Homo sapiens: one gene and its partners. The protein of the gene in region 4 purifies or fractionates together with the protein of the main gene of each other region. This does not show direct contact. Each region holds a gene or a part of one and is shown on either strand. Other genes may lie near its edges. The genes, in order: PITPNA, TALDO1, TXNDC5, ACP1, ZBTB43, PPIL3 and PAK2.

Region 1 (3,500 bases), on a different chromosome or scaffold from region 4:
CTGCATTAGAAACATACCCATGGGTACGCAAGTAACAACGGGCAGACCTCAGGCCGTCCCCAGCTCACCCCAGCCATGCCCCTCCTCCACAGGGAGCGGCCCACCCACATGCTGCCCAGCCCCCTGGCAGTGAAGGTGTGAATGGTACCTTCCAATTGGGGCCCAAGGGTCCTCGGCCTGTTTTGATAGATTTAAATTTTGCTGGGTCTTCCTCTGCCTTGTAATCCTGAGAGAAATTGTGGAATTGGGGTTGGAGGGGAGTGGGAGAGGGAGTGAGAGATGGGGAGAACAGATCTTTCATTAGCATTCACTCCATACCAGATCTTGATGCTGATGGCACAAAGCAAATATGGGAAAATGTTATAAACAAGATGTAGAACTGTTTACATTAGCCTCAGAGGAGAGTTCTATGTGATTTTCTCCGATAGGGTTTGTTTTCCATTTTGCCAGTGTGAAAGTATCACCAGACTGTCTGAGCAGGCACATATTTACCGTGTTGAAGACAGAGACTTTCAACCTGGGGTGAGCATCCAGATCACCAGGGAAGACCTTTTTAAAACACAGATTTTTGAGTCACTCCAACTAAAACCCAGTGACTGAGAATATCTGCAGGTGACGGCAGCACAGATTTGTTTTTTGTTTTTTTAAATCTCTGCAAGTGACTCTAAAATACAGCCAGCGCTCAGAATACCCGGCTGTCATTCCTTAAATCTTCCAGTGCAATCTCCCTCTGGCTTGTTTTAACAAAATCATTACTGGAAATGTTCAGTGTATGGAACCTATCCACTACTGGTGAGTCTCACTTCACAGATTTATAATGCAGTCAATTTCCTGTGTTAATTAACCACAACAAAAGTTTAATTTTCAGCTGTCCCTCTACATTGACTAATGTGGGCTCAGGAGATACAAACTTATAGCATCTACTTAACAAAAATAACAAAGATAATAAATTTCTCTCTCTCATAAAGTATTTCCCAAAGCTGAGAAGTTTTTTTTTTTTTTCTTTTTTTTTTGAGAGGGAGTCTCGCTCTGTTGGCCAGGCTGGAGTGCAGTAGCGCGATCTCGGCTCACTGCAAGCTCCATCTCCCAAGTTCACGCCATTCTCCTGCCTCAGCCTCCCCAGCAACTGGGACGACAGGTGCCCGCCACCATGCCCGGCTAATTTTTTTTGTATTTTTAGTAGAGACGGGGTTTCACCGTGTTAGCCAGGATGGTCTCGATCTCCTGACCTCGTGATCCGCCCACCTTGGCCTCCCACAGTGCTGGGATTACAGGCGTGAGCCACCGCGCCCTGCCTTATTTTTTTATTTTATTTTTTTGAGACAGCATCTCACTCTGTTGGCCAGGCTGGAGTGCAGTGGCACGATCTCAGCTCACTGCAACTTCCACCTCCTGGGTTCAAGCGATTCTCCTGCCTCAGCCTCCTGAGTAGCTGGCATTACAGGCGCCTGCGACCACGCCAGGGTAATTTTTGTATTTTTGTAGAGACGGGGTTTCACCATGTTGGCCAGGCTGGTCTCAAGCTCCTGACCTCAGGTGATCCACATGCCTCAGCCTCCCAAAGTGCTGGGATTACAGGCATGAGTCACTATGTCCGGCCGATTTTTTTTTTTTTTTTTTTTTTCAGATAGAGTTTCGCTCTGTCGCCCAGGATGAAGTGCAGTGGCACAATCTCAGCTCAATGGAACCTCCGCCTCCTGAGTTCCAGTGATCCTCCTGCCTCAGCCTCCCAAGTAGCTGGAATTATAGGCATGCGCCACCACGCCCAGCTAATTTTGTATTTTTTTTTTTTGACACAGTTTCACTCTTTTTGCCCAGGCTGGTGCAAAGGCATGATCTCGGCTCACTGCAACCTCCGCCTCCTGGGTTCAAGCGATTCTCCTGCCTCAGTCTCCTAAGTAGCTGGGATTACAGGCACCTGCCACCACGCCTGGCTAATCTGTTGTATTTTTAGTAGAGACAGGGTTTCACCATGTTGGCCAGGATGGTCTCGATCTCTTGACCTCGTGATCTGCCCACCTTGGCGTCCCAAAGTGCCGGGATTACAGGTGTGAGCCACCGCACCTGGCCCTAATTTTGTATTTTTAGTAGAGACGGGGTTTCACCATGTTGGCCAAGCTGGTCTCAAACTCCTGACCTCAAGTGATATGCCTGCCTCGGTCTCCCAAAGTGCTGGGATTACAGGCGTGAGCCAATGTGCCCAGCCTCTGAGGAGATTATATTTATGTGTGCTTTAAAAAATAAATATTCACCATCACTGCTTCCCTCCACTCACACAGATCAACCAGAGTTGACAAAATACTCAAAGAATCATACTTTTTGCTAGTATCCAGTTTGAGAAAATTCATCAAGCTGCATACTTATATTCACTTTGCTGTATATGTTAAACTTCCATAAAAAGCTTTTTGAAAAATCCACCAACGTTTTGAAGGTGGGGGTTGGGATATTGGGCAAGGAAGCACAAGATGGTTTTTATATCTTTTCGGAAATGCACAAATCAAAATAACTTTGTGTGTGTGTGTGTGTGAGATGGAGTCTCGCTGTGTCGCCCAGGCTGGAGTGCGATGGTGTGATCTCTGCTCACTGCAACCTCTGCCTCCCGGGTTCAAGCGATTCTCTTGCCTCAGCCTCCCAAGTAGCTGGGATTACAGGCACGTACCACCAGGCCTGGCTAATTTTTGTATTTTTAGTAGAGATGGGGTTTCACCATGTTGGGCAGGATGGTCTCGAACTCAGGACCTCAGATGATCGGTCACCTTGGCCTCCCAAAGTGTTGGAACTACAGGCGTGAGCCACCGTGCCAGGCCCCAAAATATCTTAAGTGCAGAGTGACCACAGGAAAGAGGTATCACACCCCTGGGATACAAAGAGCAAACACACATTCCCTATCAGTGGGCAGAGAGTTACATTCCTGTCTTTTAATCCCAATGAGGCCTCTGCCTAGTAAGAATGGTAATGAATGAGGAGGAATCTAACCCCCTCATTCCCTGAGCAAATACTTCTTGGGTGCAAAACAGTGAGCAAGCCAGACCTGGTCCCTCTTTTGACCAAGGTCATGGTCCACCAGTGGACTGTCCTTTTCCAGGGGTCTGCTCCAGTGTGTGTTACTCTGAAAAGGCGCCACCGACTTCTGGAGGGCAGGGGACCTGTCTTTCCCTGCATTCTGCATCCCTCACCTGGAACCCAGAGATCCTGACAATATTCCACAACCCAGTAGGCAGGAAGTAAATGTTTTTTTAATTACTGAGTTGGAAAAATAAATTTGAGAAGTGGTGCTCCGATTTTTCAGGCTAAGCATCATTTTAGCAGGGCAAAATACTCTAGCTACAATACCTACTTAGTCCAGTAATAATTTTCAGAGGCCAAACAGGGCACACAAATTTGGGCCACTAATTTTCTGGTGGCATCCCCAACTCAAGACAAGAAATCTCCTAATACTCACTTTTAAAAATAAAACAAGCAAGACACATCAGAATTTCCTTTTGTGCCAAGTTGGGTAT
Region 2 (3,500 bases), on a different chromosome or scaffold from region 4:
TGTATTTGTTTTTAGAGGCAGGGTTTCACCATGTTGCCCTAGCTGGTTTCGAACTCCTGAGCTTGAGCAGTCTGCCCACCTTGGCCTGCCAGGGTGCTGTGATTACAGGCGTGAGCCACTGCACCCAGTCTGGCCCAAGAATTCTAACCTCTGAGCGTCTAGCTGAAGATCTTCCTGTGTGTAGTGGGCTAACAAGGCTGCTCAGATTTTGGAACAGAATCATGGACTTCACTGGGTGTCTGTCCAATAACTTTGAAGAGATAGAAAATATAATATTTTGCAAGTGCCAAAAGATAGAGGGATGCAGTTTGGGATGATGAAAAGAGCTCTGGAGATGGATGGTGATGGTTGTACAGAACTGTGAATGTGCTGAATACATTTTAAAATGGTGGGCTGGGGGCAGTGGTGCACGCCTGTAACCCCAGTGCTTTGGTAGGCCAAGATGGGAGGATCCCTTCAGCCTAAGAGTTCGAGAACAGTCTAGGCAATAGGGCAAAACTCTGTCTCTACAAAAAAATATAAAAATTAGCTGGGCATGGGCCAGGCGTGGTGGCTCACGCCTGTAATCCCAGCACTTTGAGAGGCCAAGACAGGCGGATCACGAGGTCAGGAGATCGAGACCATCCTGGCTAACACGGTGAAACCCCGTCTCCACCAAAAATACAAAAAAATTAGCCGGGCACAGTGGCGGGCGCCTGTAGTCCCAGCTACTCAGGAGGTTGAGGCAGGAGAATGGCGTGAACCGCGGGGGGCAGAGCTGGCAGAGCCGAGATTGTGCCACTGCACTCCAGCCTGGGCGACAGAGTGACACTCCATCTCAACAAAACAAAAAAATTAGCCAGGTATAGAGGTGTGCAGCTGTAGTCCCAGCTACTTGGGAGGCTGAGGCAGGAGGATCACTTGAGCCCGGGAGGTCAAGGCTGTAATGAGCCATAATCACACTACTGTGCTTCCAGCCTTAGCTGGAGACCCTGTCTTGGGGGAAAAAAAAAAGGATAAGATGGGAAATTTTATGTTATATGTATTATTTGGCCACAATAAAAAAATGTTTTAAGAGAAAAAAAAAGATGGAGGGAAGGAAATTTGGCAAAGAAATAACAGAATTTATTTTGTAGAGTCTTGTGCACTTGAACCTCAGAAGCTTCTTTTTTTTTTTCTTGAGATGGAGTCTCGCTCTGTCGCTCAGGCTGGAGTGCAGTGGCACGATCTCTGCTCACTGCAAGCTCCACCTCCCAGGTTCACGTCATTCTCCTGCCTCAGCCTCCCTAGTAACTAGGACTACAGGCACCCGCCACCATGCCCAGCTAATTTTTTAATATTTTTAGTGGAGACGGGGTTTCACCGTGTTAGCCAGGATGGTCTTGATCTCCTGACCTCATGATCCGCCCACCTCGGCCTCCCAAAGTGCTGGGATTACAGGCGTGAGCCACCGCACCTGGCGAACCTCAGAAGCTTCTAACCTGCTTTTTTTCCCTTTGAATTTCAGGTCACAAGAGGACCAGATTAAAAATGCTATTGATAAACTTTTTGTGTTGTTTGGAGCAGAAATACTAAAGAAGATTCCGGGCCGAGTATCCACAGAAGTAGACGCAAGGTAAGGATGCTTGCTCCTGCACTGGATGGGCTGGTCAGGTGTCCACAGTTGCACACGTGGATGCCAACATGAGGTCAAGGGGCTGCTCCACCCATGGTCTTCATCCCAAGGGCCCAAGAGGAGGTTTATTTTGAGCTCTCCCACAGTTGGTAGTGATGACCAAGAGCTCCTTGTTTAGCAACTGATCTCTAGTGTTTTTTATTTTTATTTTTATTTATTTTTGAGATGGAGTCTCGCACTGTCACCCAGGCTGGAGTACAGTGGCGCAATCTCAGCTCACTGCAACCTCTGTCTCCCGGCTTGAAGCGTTTCTCTGCCTCAGCCTCCCAAGTAGCTGAGATTACAGGCACCTGCCACCATGCCCAGCTAATTTGTTGTATTTTTAATAGAGATGGGGTTTGACCATTTTGGCCAGGCTGGTCTTGAACTCCTGACGTCATGATCCACCTGCCTCGGCCTCCCAAAGTGCTGGGATCACAGGCATGAGCCACTGTGCCCGGCTGCTAGTGTTTTTTGTTTTGATTTGTTTTGTTTGTTTTTTGAGACAGAGTCTCGCTCTGTTGCCAGTGTAGAGTGCAGTGGTGTGATCTCAGCTCACTGCAACCTTCACCTCCCGGGTTCAAGCGATTCTCCTGCCTCAGCCTCCCAAGTAGCTGGGACTACAGACACCCGCCACCATACCCAGCTAATTTTTTTGTATTTTTAGTAGCGACAGGGTTTCACCATGTTGGCCAGGATGGTCTCGATCCCTTGACCTTGTGATCTTCCCGCCTCAGCCTCCCAAAGTGTTGGGATTACAGGCGTGAGCCACGGCACCTGGCCCAGTGTTTTTTAATACAAATTATAGCCTATGGATCCCACTGAGGACCTCTGTTTGTGAGACTGGGTGTGAGTTGCTGTCAGAGCCATTCTGCAAACCTCCAGTGAGGGGAAGGTTGAGGGCAGTGGTTGGTGCTCACGGTGGTGCTGCTCAAAACTGACAGGCAGACACCCGGCCTCCAGCTTGCTCTGCGTGGTGGGCAACCTGCGTGATCTGAGGGGATGGGTTCTTCTTGCTCCTACAGGCTCTCCTTTGATAAAGATGCGATGGTGGCCAGAGCCAGGCGGCTCATCGAGCTCTACAAGGAAGCTGGGATCAGCAAGGACCGAATTCTTATAAAGCTGTCATCAACCTGGGAAGGAATTCAGGCTGGAAAGTAAGTGGTCCCCCACAAGGAAGGAGCTCTCAGAGATTTTTCCTCTGTTGGAGCAGGGTCTACATGGCATCAGGCAAGTTTGACTCTCTCAGCCCTGGGGAATGCCAGACTGGGGAGCACAGCCCACAGCTTGGACTTGACCAGCTCATGTCAGCCTAGATCTGCCCTCTGCTCCAGAGCCAGCTCCCTCACTTGCTGGTGATCAGAAATGAGGGATTTCCCAGGAAGTACCATCCACCCACTCAGCAGAGAAGAAAAGCCACTAGTTAGCACCTGCAGATTCAGATTCTGTCCTTCCTCTGTCCTGATCAACACAAGCCTATGTTTACATGATTTTTAAAAAGTAAACTATTGTTATATAAAATATATGCTGGCTGGGCAAGATGGCTCATGCCTGTAATCCCAGCAATTTGGGAGGCTGAGATGGGAGGATCACTTGAGCCCAGGAGTTCCAGACCAGCCTGGGCAACAAAGTGAAACCTTGTCTCTACAAAAATATAAAGAAATTTTAGGCTGGGCACGGTGGCTCCCAGCACTTTGGGAGGCCGAGGCGTGGGGATCACGAGGTCAGGAGATCGAGACCATCCTGGCTAACACGGTGAAACCCCGACTCCACTAAAAAATATAAAAAATTAGCCGGGCATGGTGGCACACACCTGTAGTCCCATTTAGGAGGCTGAGGCAGGAGAATTGCTTGAACCCAGGAGGCG
Region 3 (2,886 bases), on a different chromosome or scaffold from region 4:
GACTTGCTGGCATGGCCCTTTCAGAAAGGAGGTTATGTTGAAATGATTCTTAGATTCAGCCACTGCATTTTATAATGCTGGCTTATGTGTGAAAAATGAGCGACTCGGGTATTTATGGCAAAGGCTACAGACCACTGGTCAATCATCAAGAGTCGCGGTGTGGGAAGCCCCACAGTCTATGGCGTGGGGTCTGTTACTTCACGGCCTTGTTACTCAGACAGCAAGGCCTGAAAACCTGCACTGAAACATGGATACTAACTACAAAGCGGGCGAAGAAGAATGCCTTCCCTTTGAGAGAGGATCTCTTTTGCTTCTCCAAACAAACAACTCAAAGGGACATAAAAACCACATTGTTGAGAAGATGAGAGCAGAGTGAGTTATCGTGGTTGAGGCACAGTTCCCTTGGGATCTGCCCCCATACTGAGAGCTCCCATAAGCATCCATCCAAGTACCCACCGAATACTTGCTGCAGATATTCCGTTCAGCAGTGCAGTCTACTTCGGCGATCTTGACCCCCGCCAGACCAGGGAATTCCTTTTTAGAGAGTTCCTCCCAAGTAGGAGCCAGAGTCTTACAATGACCACACCTAAGACGAGAAAAATGGCAGCTTCGTTGAAATCCTGGGTCGAGATCATTCACCTACACTCTGCTGCCAAGACAAGCTCTGTTTCTTCTGTATGGGACAGTCAACAATTGCCTAGAAATTTGTAAAATACCAAATTCTCCCACTGGGTGCACATTAACTCTTCCTCCTCCTATCCCAAATGAAGAACCCAAAAGTTGATCCAAGGTAGACTTTCAGATAATGTGACAGAAGCAAGCCAGTCTCAAAACAAGTTGAGATTCTGAGACCATTTCCATGCCATGGTGAACTGTGCTAACTGGTTTATGAAAGCACAGGAGCAGAGGAACAGGGAACAGGGCAGATGCCACACAATTTCTAAAAGGTCACTTGAATGCCAAAGACATTTTAGATTTGATTGCTTATGGTCTCACAATTTCAAAACCATTTTAAGGCCTCCTTGGTACTTCAGCGATGTGGGGTGAGCATCAAGGCCATGATTAAGTTTGGTTCAAACCCTCCCTTCTACCCGACTCTGTTCCCTTGTCTCTTCTGACCCCCTCCTGCCGTATGGATGGCTCCCCTTCAGCCAAAGGGGATCCTCCTTTTTGATACTTGATCTGTGGAGCTTTAGGTTTTTAAATGTTGCAAATGATTTGAAAGGCATTGCTATGGTTCGTTCAAGTCCTGTGCTTATTAACTTTTTACCCCTATGGTTAGTTTCTCAGGAACATGTGGAGTGTAACAAACAAGAAAAGTGACGCCTTTATCATGTTTAGATAAACAATCTACTGTTGTCCTAACACTCTGCTTTTCCAAATGGATTGTTTTATTTGTGAAGACAAAAAGTTACTCCCATTTTTCAGCTGAGGGAACTGGGGTTCAAAGGAATTAAAGGACATCCAAGTTTACTATACAGTCATTCACGGTAAGTCTTAGAACCAAGGTTGTCTGGATCTCACACTACCTGCAATCCATTTCTGCTCTGGTCTCCAAGACCACGTGGCATGCAGGTTCAGGAAACTGCGTAGCATACTGAATGGCTCTAACAGACTCTACTGGATTTCTCTACAAAAGAAATCCGAGTACTTAAAAGAACCGAGGAGCAAAGCTACATCATGACACTCATTGTTTAGCCAAAAAGAAAAGCCATCTATTTGGAAAAGTGCAGATACCACAAAACTGAATATGGCCATCATAATTTGCCTCCATTTTTATGTTTTCTCCAAAGTTGATATAACTTTAGCCTCATTCTCCATATATAATCAAAGTTGATATAACTGTAGCCTCATTCTCCATATATAATTAAGGCCATTGAAGTTTAAAATATTTGAATATAGGAGCATGATAACGGTTCCTTATTTCCTACAACATGACCTACATATAAATGTAACATGTGCCCAACATTGAGTCTGGAGGGGTGGCAGATGAGCTGAAAAACATGATGTGACTTAGTACACATGGACAAAGTAGTTTCTAATTAAACAGCCACTTACCATGGAGCATAAAACTTGATGAAGGTTATTCCTTCTGCAATGGTGTCATCGAAGTTATTTTCAGTGAGTGCCAACACAGTGCCCTTCAAGGGAGGAAAAAGCCACAGTTCAAGTACATCCCTTAAAGTTGAGCAGGGCCATGCTTTGGGATTGCAGATACACGAATCAGTAATTTTTTAAAAATGCAGTTACGTAGGCTCCAAGGTCACACAGAAATACCTACACAATCTGCATTTCATAGGCTACACACAAAGGGAGGCTGGCAGCCTCTGAAGGGCAGAGAGATCAATGCAAGTCCCTGGGTCCCAAGCCTGGGAGATGTGGTGAGGAGGTGGCTGGACACTGTACAGGGGATGAAGGTGGGGAGGGGGACTGTCTTTTGGGGATGAGGCAGGTTGAAAACTCTCCAGGGCGCTGTGGTGTGGACCAGGCAGCCCTGGGTGTCTGACACTTGAGTCTGCACCTCTAAGCCTGGAGTCTCCAGGATACCCACTGAAGTCTCATCCTCAGCCGCTTTTCTCACTGGCCACCCTATTCTCCTAGCACCCTTTGTGACATCCTCTCTATGCAACAGAAAGAACCTAGTTACAATAGCAAAGGCAATGATACCTGTTTTACATTGAACATAAAAATGGAAAGCAGCCTGTTCTAAGTCAATGTGAAAAACGCTGATGGAAGCTCTGGCTGGAGAATTTAAGGGAAAGGTGCTACATGGTAGTCTGCTTTAAAGCCATTCTCCCTTGACAGTTCTTTACAGAATGACGTCTATGTGTTTCTCCAAAAATGGATCTGCGATTCTCTCCTGAGAGCAGGAATGGGATGATTTAT
Region 4 (3,500 bases):
GTACTCTACTTTTAGATTTTTTCCAACTACTCAACAATGTAAAAATTATTCTTACCGCTGTGGGCTGTACATAAAGGCAGTGGACCATGAGCCGATTTTCAGACCCCTGTTTTAGGTCCAGATCTTGGGAGGCCATGTGAAGACTTGGGCTTACTCTGAATAAACATTGGAGGGTTTTGAGCAGAGGTGGGAAGTGATCAAATTTAAGTTTAAAAAAGAAGAGTTTCAGCTGTTGTTTTGAGATGAAACTGGAGGTGGAGCATGCCTTTACTGGTTGCATTCTGAGGGAATTTGAGCGGTAAATGGCATTTTACTTGGTAGCCATATAGAGGACAGTAAGAGTTGTATGCTTTTGAAATGTAAAAAACTTTGTTCATTCAAAGCATTTGTTTGGACCCTATTGAGATTGAAGTGTAGAAAAGCATCAGAGGTTTTTCATTGGTGAAGCTAATGATGGAAAATAATTGAGCTCCTTACTACAGCACAATTATGAAGGGTGCTTTATGTTTTTGCAATAGAGACTTATTAGTGAAGATGATGCAGGAGCCATGACCCAGCCAGCATGGTTGGTGGAGATAGCACATGCTGGTGGAGTCACTTTACTTCTGGGCTACACCCATACTGGGTGCTGGGTCTCTTACCAGGTATAGCAGACACAGCCCCACCCTCCCAGAGCCTATCTGCCTTTTATGAGTCTCCATCCTTGAATTGAAGATGCTGAAGAAGGGTATAAAATAGTCTGCCTAATTTGGAAAAGACAAACTTGAGACTTTACAGATTGAAACATTTTTTAAAGGCATTTGAAGATGGAATGTTCTGTTTTTAGAACTTGTTTGATAGGCGAAACCTGAAGTACATGCAGTGTTTCACTGATGACCGGGGTGCTCCATTTTTTCATAACAAAATTTGGTGGCATCAACTTTCGAAATCAACAGGGCAAGCTACTGCTAGCCTTTAGGACAGTTAATAATGCAAGTTTTCATATTGTTGTGGGGAAAGTAAGCTGTTATTTTACAGTTAAAGATAATTATTTGTAAACGTGTGGGGCTAGTCTTTATTATATTTTTAGATGCTGAGATACTAGGCATCTGTTGTTCTACAGATCCAAAATAATAATTGTCTTAATTTGGAATACAATGTTTGCTGTTAAAAATATTCCCAGGGTATATGGTGACAAGTAAAAGAGTTACACACCCATGGGAAGCCTTTCAATAATTAAAATAGTGCTGATGACAATACCTGTTTAGAAAACTAAACAAAATTTAGAATGTCGAAAGGAAAAACTTCACAACACAAATTAGCATATAGAGGGTATTCAAGGCTAATTTGTTGTCTTTCCCTTTATGGTTTGTAGGTAAGATTTTTTACTGCTGTGGAAACTACAGTCTCTGTGGGAAAAAAGTACGTAATATGCTTAGGTCTTACAATGTAGAAACTGAAGGCTGTAGTAAGGCAGTGAGTTGGTTTTCTGAACTAGGGAATTAGCTGTGTTTTACAACACTAGAAGATCCTCATTGTATTTGTTTATCATAAACAGAAGACCCTAATAGTGATAAAGAGTAAACTCTTAGTTAGTGCTGCCTATTCTCACAGTTCCTCTTTTTCGTATCTGTTTCCTAAATTCAGCTCCTAATGTCTGGACTCAGTGTGGTGCTTTGGCATTAAGGAGACTGGAAGGCCTCAGAGCAGCCCCAGAAGCAAGGTCGTAGAAACCATCATTTATCTTCCCCAGCGCAGATCATAGAAACTAGAACTCCTCTCCTGCAAAGCAAGCCATAAAACCTAGAAAGATCACTCTCTCCCTTTTGCCTTCTCTTGAAGACAGCATTTCAGAGGGGCCCTGCCTCATTCCTGGGGGAGGAAATGCTGTGGCCCTGCTGGGTTTCCCTCAGTCTGCTACCATTGGATCATTTCCTTTTGTCCAGTGCCATTTCTACACAGCTGTGCATTGGTCATCTAAGCATCAAAACCGTTTCCCTGGGTCTTTGGGTCTTCATTTCTGAAGGCTCTTGTTAACCTGTCTTTTGTTACAGGAGTATCTTCCATGACCTTTATGATGGGTGAGGAAAGCTGCCACACCTTTCCACTCTGACACTGTCTTGTATTTGCTCCTTCATACGAGCCTCTTACAAGGTCTCTCCAATTCAGTCATGTGCTCTTCTAGTGTTTCCTTAGCTGTGCCGGTAATTTTGGTAACTTGTAGGAAGGGTCTGTGTTTTAAACAACTTTCTGTCTTCAGGTTAGGGCACAGTGCTTGGCACATAGAGTTGGCATACAAAATATGTTTGTTGAATAAGTCATATTACCCTTTTCCATAGGACTTTCTATTTCTCCTCATAGTGGCTACGCAAAGTTCAAATGTTGGCCCAGTGTTTTAGGGCTCCTGTATACCAGCCCGTCAGTTTCCAGACACTGGCTCTCTGTACCTGAAGCATCGCAGCCTCACCTGCTTAGTGCCACAATCCCTCTGAGTTAAATGCCTTTCCCTTCCTCTGTCCATTAAGATCCTGATCATCCTTTTAATATCATCTCTAATCTTTCTTTTTTCTGGTAAGAAATTTTCTTATATCTTGTTTTTGCTTTGTAGCATCGTTCTTTTTCTGTGCTGCTGTAGTGTATTGTTTATCAGCATTCATTTTCCCACTTTTATTATAATAAATATAATAAATAAAGTGGAGATAGAGTTCAGCTGAATGGCCAGTGATTCAACCCATTGTGTCTCCCTCCGAAAACCCCAATAAAACCTCAGAGCACTATGGCTCTGAGGAGCTTCCTGGGTTGGCAGTGCTCTTTGAATATTGTCTCATGTTGATGACAGGAGAGTAAGGTGTCCCAGAGGACAGTGGAGCTACCTGTTAGGGAACCTCCCAGAATGTGCCCTATAGGTCACTTGCTTTGGCTGTTTTGTTTGTTTGTTTGTTTTTGTTTTTGTTGCTGTTACTATAATGAAATTGTAATGGTAAGTGTTCTGCTTTCCTGAGTTTGGGGAGTAATTCTAGGGAATTATCAAACCTGAGGGAGCCCTGGGGAACCTGGATTTCTCACTTGCTGGTCTAAAGTAAGGATGGCCCTGATGTCGACATCGTGGTCTGGAGAGTGGTGTCCCTGACCTTGGGCTGCTAATGCCTGGATCTGTATCCCTGGGCTCAGGGCTTTGCATGTGATCGCTCAGTAAATGTTGGTGTTGAATCGCTGTTTATGCTTAAATGCATGTTTGTGTGTTTGTGTATTGTTTTGTGAAACAGTAGTCATCCTTATGTGTGATATACTTGAAAATACATACAGTTGACCCTTCAGCCACAGGGGTTTGAACTTTGAAGGATTTATTCGAGGAATTTTTTTAATCAAGCACAGATGGAAAATACCGTGTTGTCTGAATGAGAAACCCATCTGTATGGAGGGCTGACTTTTCCTATACTTGGGCTCCACATTCTCAGGGGCCAACTATAGGACCTGAGTATGCACGTTTTGGTATACTGGGTAGGGGTGGGAGGGTGTCC
Region 5 (3,500 bases), on a different chromosome or scaffold from region 4:
ATAGGAAATAACAGCAACTACTATTTATGACATACATATACAAATATATAAACTGCTTAATACAGACATTGTACAAAGTCTATGCAAAGCACTTTATATGCTCTGTCTCACTTAATCTTCACAGCAACCCACTCAATAGGTATTTTTTACTTCCATTGTACAGAATTGGAGATAGACAAAAAAGCTAAGCAACTTAAGGTCATATAACTGGTAAGCAGTAAAATTGAGATTTAAATCCAAAGTACTTGTTCAGGCCCACTATAGCTTAAGAGGTGGAAAGAAAAGGTGAATATAATTTTTTCTTCTTTTTTTTTTTTTTTTTGAGATGGAGTCTCTGTCGCCCAGGCTGGAGGGCAGTGGTGCCACTTCAGCTCACTGTAACCTCCGCCTCCCAGGTTCAAGCGATTCTCCTGCCTCAGCCTCCTGAGTAGCTGAGACCACAGGTGCGTGACACCACGCCCAGCTAATTTTTGTGTTTTTAGTAGAGATGGGGTTTCACCATGTTGGCCAGGTTGGTCTCGAACTCCTGACCCTCATGTGATCTGCCCACCTTGGCCTCCCAAAGTGCTGGGATTACAGGCATGAGCCATCGTGCCTGGCTGTGAATATCACTATAGTTTCAGAGTATGGAAAGTAAACGTGAATATCATTTTCACAAATAATCTATATAATTTTATTATATACAATGCATTCACAAACTTTCGCACGCTGACCATCCTTAGACTTAAGATGGCCCAAGCCAGGCATGGTGGCTCACTCCTGTAATCCCAGTACTTTGGGAGGCCGAGGCGGGCGGATCACCAGGTCAAAAGATGGAGACCATCCTGGCCAACATGGTGAAACCCCTTCTCTACTAAAAGTACAAAAAAAAATTAGCTGTGCATGGTGGCCCATGCCTGTAGTCCCAGCTACCTGGGAGGCTGAGGCAGGAGAATCACTTGAACCCGGGAGGCAGAGGTCGCAGTGAGCCAAGATCTCGCCACGCGCTCCAGCCTGTGTGACAGAGCGAGACCCCATCTCAAAAAAAAAAAAAAAAAAAAAAAAGACGGCTGGGCACAGTGGCTCATGCCTGTAATCCCAGCACTTTGGGAGCACGAGACGGTGGATCACCTGTGGTCAGGAGTTTGAGACTGGCCTGGCCAAGAAGGCGAAACCCTGTCTCTACTAAAAATACAAAATTAGCTGGGCATGCTGACAGATGCCTGTAATCCCAGCTACTCAGGAGGCTGAGGAAGGAAAATCTCTTGAACCTGGGAGGCAGAGGTTGCAGTGAGCGGAGATTCTGCCACTGCACTCCAGCCTGGGCAACAAGAGCGAGACTCCATCTCAAAAACAAACAAACAAACAAATAAACAAACAAATGAACAAACAAACAAAAACCTTAATAAGATACCAGCAGTTAGTGGGCCGGGCGCGGTGGCTCACGTCTGTAATCCCAGCACTTTGGGAGGCTGAGGCCCGTGGATCACAAGGTCAGGAGTTCAAGACCAGTCTGGCCAAGATGGTGAAACCCCATCTCTACTAAAAATACAAAAAAATTAGCCGGGTGTGGTGGCCGGCACCTGTAATCCCAGCTACTCTGAAGGCTGAGGCAGAGAACTGCTTGAGCCTGGGAGGTGGAGCTTGCAGTGAGCTGAGATCCTGCCACTGCACTCTAGCCTGGGCGACAAAGCGAGACTCTGTCTCAAAAAAAAAAAGATACCAGCAGTTTTATGCCACTTTGCACATGTATTTTATTTTTTTAATCCAATAGCAACAGTTCTAAAACAAACACACCGATGCCAGCCTGTTCCACTATGCTTCTTAAAAGCTATTTGGCTTTTTTTAACGCAGATGAAGGGCAACATACTGAAGAAATCCTGAACTAGATGACCTTCAAGATTCCTTCCAACTTTGATGAGTTTAATAACAGCCACTATTTATTATTCGGCTGAGGAACTCCAAGTCAAATTTTATACGTGATTTAAACACCTATTAAACATCCTAAAAACACAGATGACAGCAATATAATAGGGAAGCAGACCCACCAGCTACTTATTGTGAAGTCCTTCAGAGGTTTCTTTAATCAGAGCATATGGTAACTTGCATGCTTACTATAGAAAGCATATTTAAACATAGTAAATGTTGCTTCAGTAAATTTAAAGCCTGGCACAAATGTACAAAAACACCAATACCCTATGCCTACTCTTTACATTAGTGAAATGCTTTAGAGTTCACAAAGCACACTATGTAAACCTGCGTTGTGCAACACTCCCGTATCATTGCATCCTTTTGAAATATGAGTAAACTGAAGCTCAAATTAAAAGACCTGCCAGTGGTTACACGTCTCAGAAATGGCATGTCAGCATTCAAACAGCAGTATAACTCCAAATCTAACATTTTTCTAAGTTAAGAAAAAAAATTCACTTGGCAGAAAAATTTATCTGACATTAAATGTTCTATCAGTGCAAAGTATGGCATTGATGGGCCTTAGAAGGTGTAACATCTCTTCAGAAGAGAAGAAAGAATCTTCTGGTCTAGAGGAATTAAAAATCTTAACAAAATACATTATTATTTTTGCTAAAAGAGAAATGATTACAGTAAGTAACTTTAAAAATGGTATCGTGATCAAGTTGATAGCTTACCTAATGCAAAGCTGTATTCCTGGGATAGAGTTCCTTATGCCATGGCCATCAAAAAGCAACATGAATAGAATGAGGAAGAAGAACCCATTTCAGTTTTGCTTCAAATTAAAATCACATTGACTTCTGGAAGGAAGAGTAACAGTGAAAATGTAAAAGAGATGCTATGTACACGTGTATTTGCTAATAAACACTAGAGATGTACATTAGCGGCAGAAAGAAAAGTAATCAAGACTGGCATTTTTGGTTATATTAAATTCCATTCTGCAACTTCATAGCTCCTGCTTTTGTATTTTTTAAAAAAACAAACTTATTTTGTAATAATTTTAAATTTTCAAAAAAACTGAAAAGATAGTGCATAACTCCCATATACCTCTCATCCATTACTGTGGCATATTCATTAAAACTAGAAAACATGGTCAATGACTATGTAATTTTGCAGAATTAATATATCCTTTGGAACAGTGCTATTGGTCTCCTGACCATTGTCAATCAGTATTCTTCCATTTTTTTCCTAATTAGAACACTTTGGCCAAATCACTTAGTAAAAACTATTTTAAGATGTTTTTTAAAAAAACAAGCCACCTGCTTTATGAAGTTTGATTCATGATTCCCTTCAATTTTAAGCCACGGCTGAATGTTTTACTTAAAAACTTCTAGGACAAACATTCTATTACAGCAAACTCTCTGAGATTCAAAAGAGAAGGTAACGTTCTAGAAACTAACCCCCCATTTATCGATCATCCTTCCATTGAATTTCAATAAAGCCAAGGAAATGTTTTTAACTGTACCCTCACGTGCATTAGAATTCAGGATAAGAAGCTGAAATCAAGAAAGCAGAAGGCAGAAACAGTACTCATTTCAAGAAATTAACAACAT
Region 6 (3,500 bases), about 200 Mb from region 4:
TATCTTTTTTTTTTTAGAGATAGGGTATCATTGTTGCCCAGGCTGGAGTACAGAAGTGTGATCTCAGCTCATGCAGCCTGGAACTCCTGGGCTCAAGTGATTCTCCCACCTCAGCCTCCTGAGTAGTTGGGATTACAGGTGTGTGTCACCACACTTGGCTAATTTTTAAATTTTTTTTATAGAGATGGGTTCTGCTATGTTCCACAGGCTGGTCTTGAACTCCTGGCCTCAAGTGATCCTCCTGTCTCAGCCTCCCAAAGCACTGGGATTACAGGCCTGGGAAAGTTCTGTTAATTAAAAAAGGTGAATCAGCTGGCAAGCACCTTTTGTCTTTCCTCCCCTTTCCTCCCTGATACACAGAAGTTTTGATAAGAGCTGTGCTGCCAATATTATGACAGAGGCGCCTAGAACACTGGTAACAAAATGGAACCACCATGCCAGTCCATCTTGTTTAAGCCACTATTTTTCAGATCTGTTAGTTGCTGTGAAATGCTATCATTAATGAAAATGGACCAGCCTGGGCAACATAGTGAGACCATGTCTCTAAAAAAAAAGTGTTTTTTTTGTTTTTTTTTTTTTTAAAGTAGCTGCGCATGATGGTACACATTTGTGGTTCCAGTTACTCAAGAGGCTGAGGTGAGAAGATCACTTGAGACCAGGAGGTTGAGGCTGCAATGAGCCATGACTGTGCTACTGCACCATACTCCAGCCTGGCGACAGAGCCTTTCGTCTCAAAAAAAGAAAAAGAAAAAGAAAATAGATATACTATGTTAATTTGCATAACAATATTGAAAAATTACTGGCCTCTTTTACAAAATAAGGAAAATAAAGCTCAGGGAGATTATAACTTTCCCAAGGTCACAGGGTTGCTAAGTGGTAGACTTAAACTCCAGGTACGTTTAGCTCTCACACCACTCTTCTTTTCTTTCTTTTCTTTTCATTTTTTTTTTTTTTTTTTGAGGCAGAGTCTCACTCTGTCGCCCAGGCTGGAGTGCAATGGCATGATCACGGCTCACTGTAACTTCCGCCTCCCAGGTTCAAGCAATTCTCCTGCTTCAGCCTCCTGAGTAGCTGGGACTACAGGTGTGTGCCACCACATCCAACTAATTTTTTAAAATATTTTTAGTAGAGACAGGGGTTCTGCCACATTGGCCAGGCTGGTCTCGAACTCCTGACCTCAGACAATCTGCCCACCTTGGCCTCCCAAAGTGCTGGGATTACAGGTGTGAGGCACTGCGCTCGGCCTCACTCTTTTCAATATTAGTTATGCTACTGTCACAGCTAAGCATATGCACCACTTGCATTGAAATGCTAAAAGAAAACCATAACCAGAATACTCACTTTCCAAATACGGTGTATTTCATGTCCAAATGTGGCTGTTTGCCATAGGTGATGAAGAACTGAGATCCATTGGTGTTCGGGCCATTATTAGCCATAGATACAACACCTCTAACATTGTGCTGAAAAAGACACATCAAAGTATTAACTGTGTTTTTATATAACCATCCCAAATATAGTATTGAAACAAGACAGGCACACCTTTGTTTTCTTTTTTAAAAATATTTTGAGATTGGGGTCTCACTATGTTGCTCAGGCTGGTCTCTAACTCCTAGGCTCAAGTGATCCTCCTGCCTTAGCTTCCAAAGTGTTGGGATTACAGGTGTGAATCAGCACACCCAGCCAAGACATTCAATCTTTACCTTCACAATATTTAAGGGAGCAAGAAAACATTTAACCAACTTCTCTCTATTAGGGATAATCCAAATGTTCAGTTTCTGCCTTTTCTGTACCTTTGAAAACTTGTATGTAAAAGGTTAATATATCAAATAATATTTCTCAATTAATTTCATTTTCACTTTGAAGAAATACAGCCATGGACACTTTTTGCAATACCAACAAATAATAGAAATAATCCTTACATTTATATTAAGGAATAGTGTGCTGGAATGAAATGATCAGGCAGGCAACAAAACCAAAATGCCCACAATCTCTTCTCACATACAATGGACTCTTGCTAGTTTCTTTATCTGTAAAACAAGGGAGGCTGGACTAGTTCAAGGGTCTATTTATAACTCAGATGCTCACAAGGGTCAAGCAGATAAACTGACAATTGGGCAGAATGTAAACATTAGAGAGAGATGAAGTCTGGCAAAATGAATAGGCTATCTCTTGATTAATGACATTAAATATATATTTTTTAACTAAGGGCCACAGATAATGCATCTGTGGGTGTTCCACTCATGGGCAGTCAGTTTATAACCCCAGGACTGAACGATCTAAGAAAGGTCTCACCTAGCTCTACTATCATGATAGTATTTGTTTACAAGAGACAGTGTATAGAAATTAAAAGGACCTTACTGATAAGAATGAAGATGTAACTGTGAACTATGTTACAGGGAGGTGCCTGTAATACACTACAACTCCACCAATTACTCTAGCTTTAGCTATTCATTGGGTGACGCTAATAAGTCATAGAGAAGCACCTATATCAAAATATTAATGCTTGTCTCCCTAAAAGGTGTCCACCAATCAAATGTAATATTAAATACACATGTAATATTTAATACATACACAATATTTAATACATACACAAAAATATAGTTAATAAAAATGTAAGTTAATAAAATAAGCACCCATTAACATATTTCCCAGCTTTCAGAGTTAAAATTTACCAATTCATTGAATAATGGGAGCTCAAGAAAAAATAAAAGTTACCAATTAATTACATATATCCATGTGCTCCTCTCCATTTATTACCTCAGCCTCTACAAGAGGTAACCACTATTCTAATACCTTTTTTTTTTCATTTTTTCATTTTTTTTTTTTTTTAGAGACAGGGTCTCACTCTGTCACCCAGGTTAGAGTGCAGTGGTGCAATCATAGCTCACTGTAGCCTTGACCTCCTAGGCTTGAGCAATCCTTCCACCTTGGCCTCCTGAGTAGCTGAGACTACAGATGTACACCTCCATACCTGGCTAATTTTTTAACTTTTAGTAGAGATGAGGGCTCAATATGTTGCTCAGGCTGATCTCAAACTCCTGGCCTCAAGTACTTGTTCCTCTCACCTCGGCCCCCTAAAGTGCTGGGATTATAAGAGTGAGCCACTGTGCCCAGCCCTAACACATTTACACATGCCTAAACAACACATTCTTTCCTTTTCCTTCTGAATATAATTACATCGTAACATTTTAGTCTTCTGGGAAATGCTTTCTACAAATAACATTGTTACATTTCTAAGGTTATACATGTACATATAGCCATAGTTTATTACTATTTTTTTACTACTATGTGATATTTCACTACTGAATATACTACAATTTATCCACAATCTACATAGTGATTCATCTACAATCAGTGGACATTTGGGTTGTTTCTAGACTTTTGCTATTACAAACAGTACATCAGAACACTCCTGTACATGTCTCTTGGTGCAAACTTACAAGTTTCTCTTGAGTAAACATTTGGGAATGGAATTCCTGGGCCAGAATATATGAAGAGTC
Region 7 (3,146 bases), on a different chromosome or scaffold from region 4:
CTGGCATTTTGTTCCCACCATCCCCTTCCCCCATTAACTTCCCCCCTGCTTGCCATCCTGCAGTAGTATAAATCATGAATAAAAAATAATTTTGCTGTTGTAGTATACATTGGAGAAACTGGCAGGTTTTATTTCCATTATTTTATTTCCACTATATCTATGATAAGATGCAATTATAAGGAGAGAAGTGACTGTTTTTTATTGATAAGGCAAGATTTTCAGAAAAATGAGTAAAATAATTAATGAAACATATTTAGAGCACTTAATGGTCTCTGTTTTCAATATAATTCTTGATTTCATTTTTCTCTGGAATATATTGGCCTTCTACAGCTATTACTGAATTATAGAAACTGGTTTATTTCTGGCAGAAAGCTGCAGTGCCACCTGAGTTCCAAATTTTACCATTCTTTGTAAACAGTTGGATGGATTATGATAAAGAAGATGCTACCAATGAAATAGAAAACCAACGAGATGAGAAGACTGTGATCCTCATGTACTCAGAGGCACTTCCCTCCTAAGTCAAAGACCATCCTCACTGACTATGTGCCAACGCCTCGTTTCAGGCTTGTGACTCAACAAAGGGCTTTTCCATTGATAGAAGCAGTTTGGGATTTGTAGTTGCGACTTCTTCGATAGTTACCTGCACGTCCATTGCTGGCAACTGACTTGTCATTAAAACCTGGCTCTTTGGTTAAGGGAGCTACGCTGTGGTTTATTCTTAAGTTACGTGGATAAACTAACCTCTAACAGAAATATACTTTGGTTAATTTTGAAATGTGTCATTTTTAAACAATCTTAAAAGTAATACAGAATTGTGATTTATTAATTTTAAAACATTCAGAACTTGTTGAAAGAAAAATTATATCTGAATCAAGATTCATGTTTTTTATTTTTATTTTTTTTGATACAGAGTCTCACTCTGTCACTCAGGCTGGAGTGCAGTGACATGATCTCAGCTCACTGCAACCTCCGCTTCCTGGGTTCAAGCAATTCTCATGCCTCAGCCTCCTGAGTAGCTGAGACCACAGGCACCCGCCACCACACCCAGCTATTTTTTTGTATTTTTAGTAGAGACAGAGTCTCACCACATTGCCCAGGCTGGTCTCCAACTCCTGAGCTCAGGCAGTCTGCCCACCTTGGCCTCCCAAAGTGCTGCAGTTACAGGCGTGAGCCACTGCACCTGGCCTCATGTTTTTTAAATAATTGCCTTTTATATTTACCCTTTTTGTCATCACTTTAGAATGAAAATTCCCATTTAAATCTGAAAGTTACCTTAATAGTCCTCTTGTGTTATTAGGACAGTATTATTATAGTACTTATTTATTTTATTTTAGATTTAAAGTTATCTTCTCTTTTTCTTTTTTCTTCTGCTGCTTTTAGGGACAATTAAAACTGGGAAACTATGAAACATGGAACATTTTATCCTACCTGAAAGTAAACGAGTAATTGTGAAGCATAAGACACTGAGGCTAATACAACTCTGTCTTCATGTGTTGACTGCCTGGCACATAGTATTCATTCTCTTCCCTTTAACATAGAAGTGTCCAGCTGCGTACAGTCTAGTAACCAGCAACTGTAAACGAACCTGTGCCTCTAACAAGCGATTCTAAACCACCTATGAGTATTTCTTTTAGGGCTCACTTAAATACATGTTTGTATATACTGTATTCTAGCCAGAATAATTTTAGATCTGATCAGGTAGTAGCTAAAATTAGAAAAAAACAAAATAGATGCTTAAAGAATTTGCATCCATTTTTGAGTCTAAATCTTTTAAAATATACTGAGATCCACATCTAGTGAAATGTCAGTGTCAAAATATTATAGATTATAGCTAAAATCCAGATTAATACTCATTTGGGGTTTTTTATAGTGGAACTTCATAGTAATACAAAAAGCAGATTGTCTTCCTGTCTCCGCTGCTCCCACAGTAGGTATTGAAACTGGTAAAATCAGTTTTTTGATAGTGTGTGTATATAAGAAAAAATAGATACACACATTCTTTTTTCTCAGTCAACACATTGATTGAACACTCTGGCAAAGATGCTGTGGTGGATGAGGTTGGAGTTCGAAAGAAGAAGCAAGCGCTGGCCTGGCCTTGAAAGAACCGAAGTCTTTCCCATTCACTTCTCTAGAAAGCTGCCAAGACAGAGGCAGAAAGAAATGGATGATAGTTCTGTCAAGCACACTTCTGTTCTCTTAGAACTTAGAAGTGTTTCTAAGAGAACAGAAGTAATAAGAGAAACAGTTACGTGTGGAATTCAACATCTTTGGTTGGAACGCATTGGCTTTTTTTTTCTTGTTTTGATAGAAATGGAATTAAGCAAAAGTAGTTTTTGTCTTTTCTGTTGTCTTCAAATTTTATGCCTTTTATTTTTAATTTAATCCCGTTCAATTATTTAATTGTTATACATTGACATTAACTGCTGTATTTTGACTTTGTTCAATAATTTTGTTCTTTCAGGGCTAGAAATAAACTTTTTAAAAAAAGTGTGCATTTTTCCCTTTCCTAAACTTTTATTCTTTCTTTTGATCAGCGTAAAAGAATATTTTAATGTCTTTTGATAGCATAAAAGAATATTTAAATGTCTTAATAGGTTTTCAAAGAACATTTAGTATTTTTAGTGATAAATGTTTTAAACCTTTTAATGGTGTTGTGCCATCATTTTGAATTTATTACAAAGCTCCAAAGTAGGAAGGTTTCTAGAAATGTGTGGGCAGTAAACATGAAGTTTTCCTTTTTTTTTTTTTTTTTTTTTTTTTTGAGACAAGTCTCACTCTTTCTTCCAGGCTGGAGTGCAGTGGCGCCATCTCAGCTCACTGCAACCTCTGCCTCCCAGGTTCAAGTGATTCTCCTGCTTCGGCCTCCTGAGTAGTTAGGGGAAGTTTTCCCTTTCTAAATCAAGTTCAGAATAATTTTCTTTATCAATGTTTCTCTATCAGACCCAGGGAAACAGTTCTGATTTGAACACACACCTTGCTGGAGTAATAAAAACCTGATCAGAATTTCTGTGTTAAGTGAACCAAGAAACCTTTTAGAGTGCAATACGTCGTAAGGCATCACTTCATTATGTGAATTAATTTGGAATCTTAGGTACCCTAACATAGGGAACAGCCACAATAATGGTTTACTATCAAAAAGCATAAAA

Evidence for each region.
Region 1: the proteins of ACP1 (region 4) and PITPNA fractionate together in Homo sapiens (co-fractionation; one large-scale study listed by BioGRID). This does not show direct contact.
Region 2: the proteins of ACP1 (region 4) and TALDO1 fractionate together in Homo sapiens (co-fractionation; one large-scale study listed by BioGRID). This does not show direct contact.
Region 3: the proteins of ACP1 (region 4) and TXNDC5 purify together in Homo sapiens (affinity purification with mass spectrometry, with the first as the bait; one large-scale study listed by BioGRID). This does not show direct contact.
Region 5: the proteins of ACP1 (region 4) and ZBTB43 purify together in Homo sapiens (affinity purification with mass spectrometry, with the first as the bait; one large-scale study listed by BioGRID). This does not show direct contact.
Region 6: the proteins of ACP1 (region 4) and PPIL3 fractionate together in Homo sapiens (co-fractionation; one large-scale study listed by BioGRID). This does not show direct contact.
Region 7: the proteins of ACP1 (region 4) and PAK2 purify together in Homo sapiens (co-immunoprecipitation; one large-scale study listed by IntAct). This does not show direct contact.

What each region holds. Positions count from the first base shown.
Region 1 is NC_000017.11:1,535,293-1,538,792, forward strand, and holds part of PITPNA (phosphatidylinositol transfer protein alpha isoform), read right to left. Parts: intron 227-3,500; coding exon 149-226; intron 1-148. UniProt on the Homo sapiens protein: Catalyzes the transfer of phosphatidylinositol (PI) and phosphatidylcholine (PC) between membranes. Shows a preference for PI and PC containing shorter saturated or monosaturated acyl chains at the sn-1 and sn-2 positions.
Region 2 is NC_000011.10:757,464-760,963, forward strand, and holds part of TALDO1 (transaldolase), read left to right. Parts: intron 1-1,486; coding exon 1,487-1,594; intron 1,595-2,658; coding exon 2,659-2,790; intron 2,791-3,500. UniProt on the Homo sapiens protein: Catalyzes the rate-limiting step of the non-oxidative phase in the pentose phosphate pathway. Catalyzes the reversible conversion of sedheptulose-7-phosphate and D-glyceraldehyde 3-phosphate into erythrose-4-phosphate and beta-D-fructose 6-phosphate.
Region 3 is NC_000006.12:7,883,903-7,886,788, forward strand, and holds part of TXNDC5 (thioredoxin domain-containing protein 5 isoform 1 precursor), read right to left. Parts: intron 2,142-2,886; coding exon 2,059-2,141; intron 587-2,058; coding exon 457-586; intron 1-456. UniProt on the Homo sapiens protein: Protein disulfide isomerase of the endoplasmic reticulum lumen involved in the formation of disulfide bonds in proteins. Can reduce insulin disulfide bonds.
Region 4 is NC_000002.12:267,947-271,446, forward strand, and holds part of ACP1 (low molecular weight phosphotyrosine protein phosphatase), read left to right. Parts: intron 1-3,500. UniProt on the Homo sapiens protein: Acts on tyrosine phosphorylated proteins, low-MW aryl phosphates and natural and synthetic acyl phosphates with differences in substrate specificity between isoform 1 and isoform 2.
Region 5 is NC_000009.12:126,808,040-126,811,539, reverse strand, and holds part of ZBTB43 (zinc finger and BTB domain-containing protein 43), read right to left. Parts: intron 3,444-3,500; exon of another isoform or gene 3,348-3,443; intron 2,748-3,347; 5' UTR 2,625-2,747; intron 1-2,624. UniProt on the Homo sapiens protein: May be involved in transcriptional regulation.
Region 6 is NC_000002.12:200,875,578-200,879,077, forward strand, and holds part of PPIL3 (peptidyl-prolyl cis-trans isomerase-like 3), read right to left. Parts: intron 1,461-3,500; coding exon 1,342-1,460; intron 1-1,341. UniProt on the Homo sapiens protein: PPIases accelerate the folding of proteins. It catalyzes the cis-trans isomerization of proline imidic peptide bonds in oligopeptides. May be involved in pre-mRNA splicing.
Region 7 is NC_000003.12:196,830,002-196,833,147, forward strand, and holds the end of PAK2 (serine/threonine-protein kinase PAK 2), read left to right. Parts: 3' UTR 1-2,646; downstream 2,647-3,146. UniProt on the Homo sapiens protein: Serine/threonine protein kinase that plays a role in a variety of different signaling pathways including cytoskeleton regulation, cell motility, cell cycle progression, apoptosis or proliferation.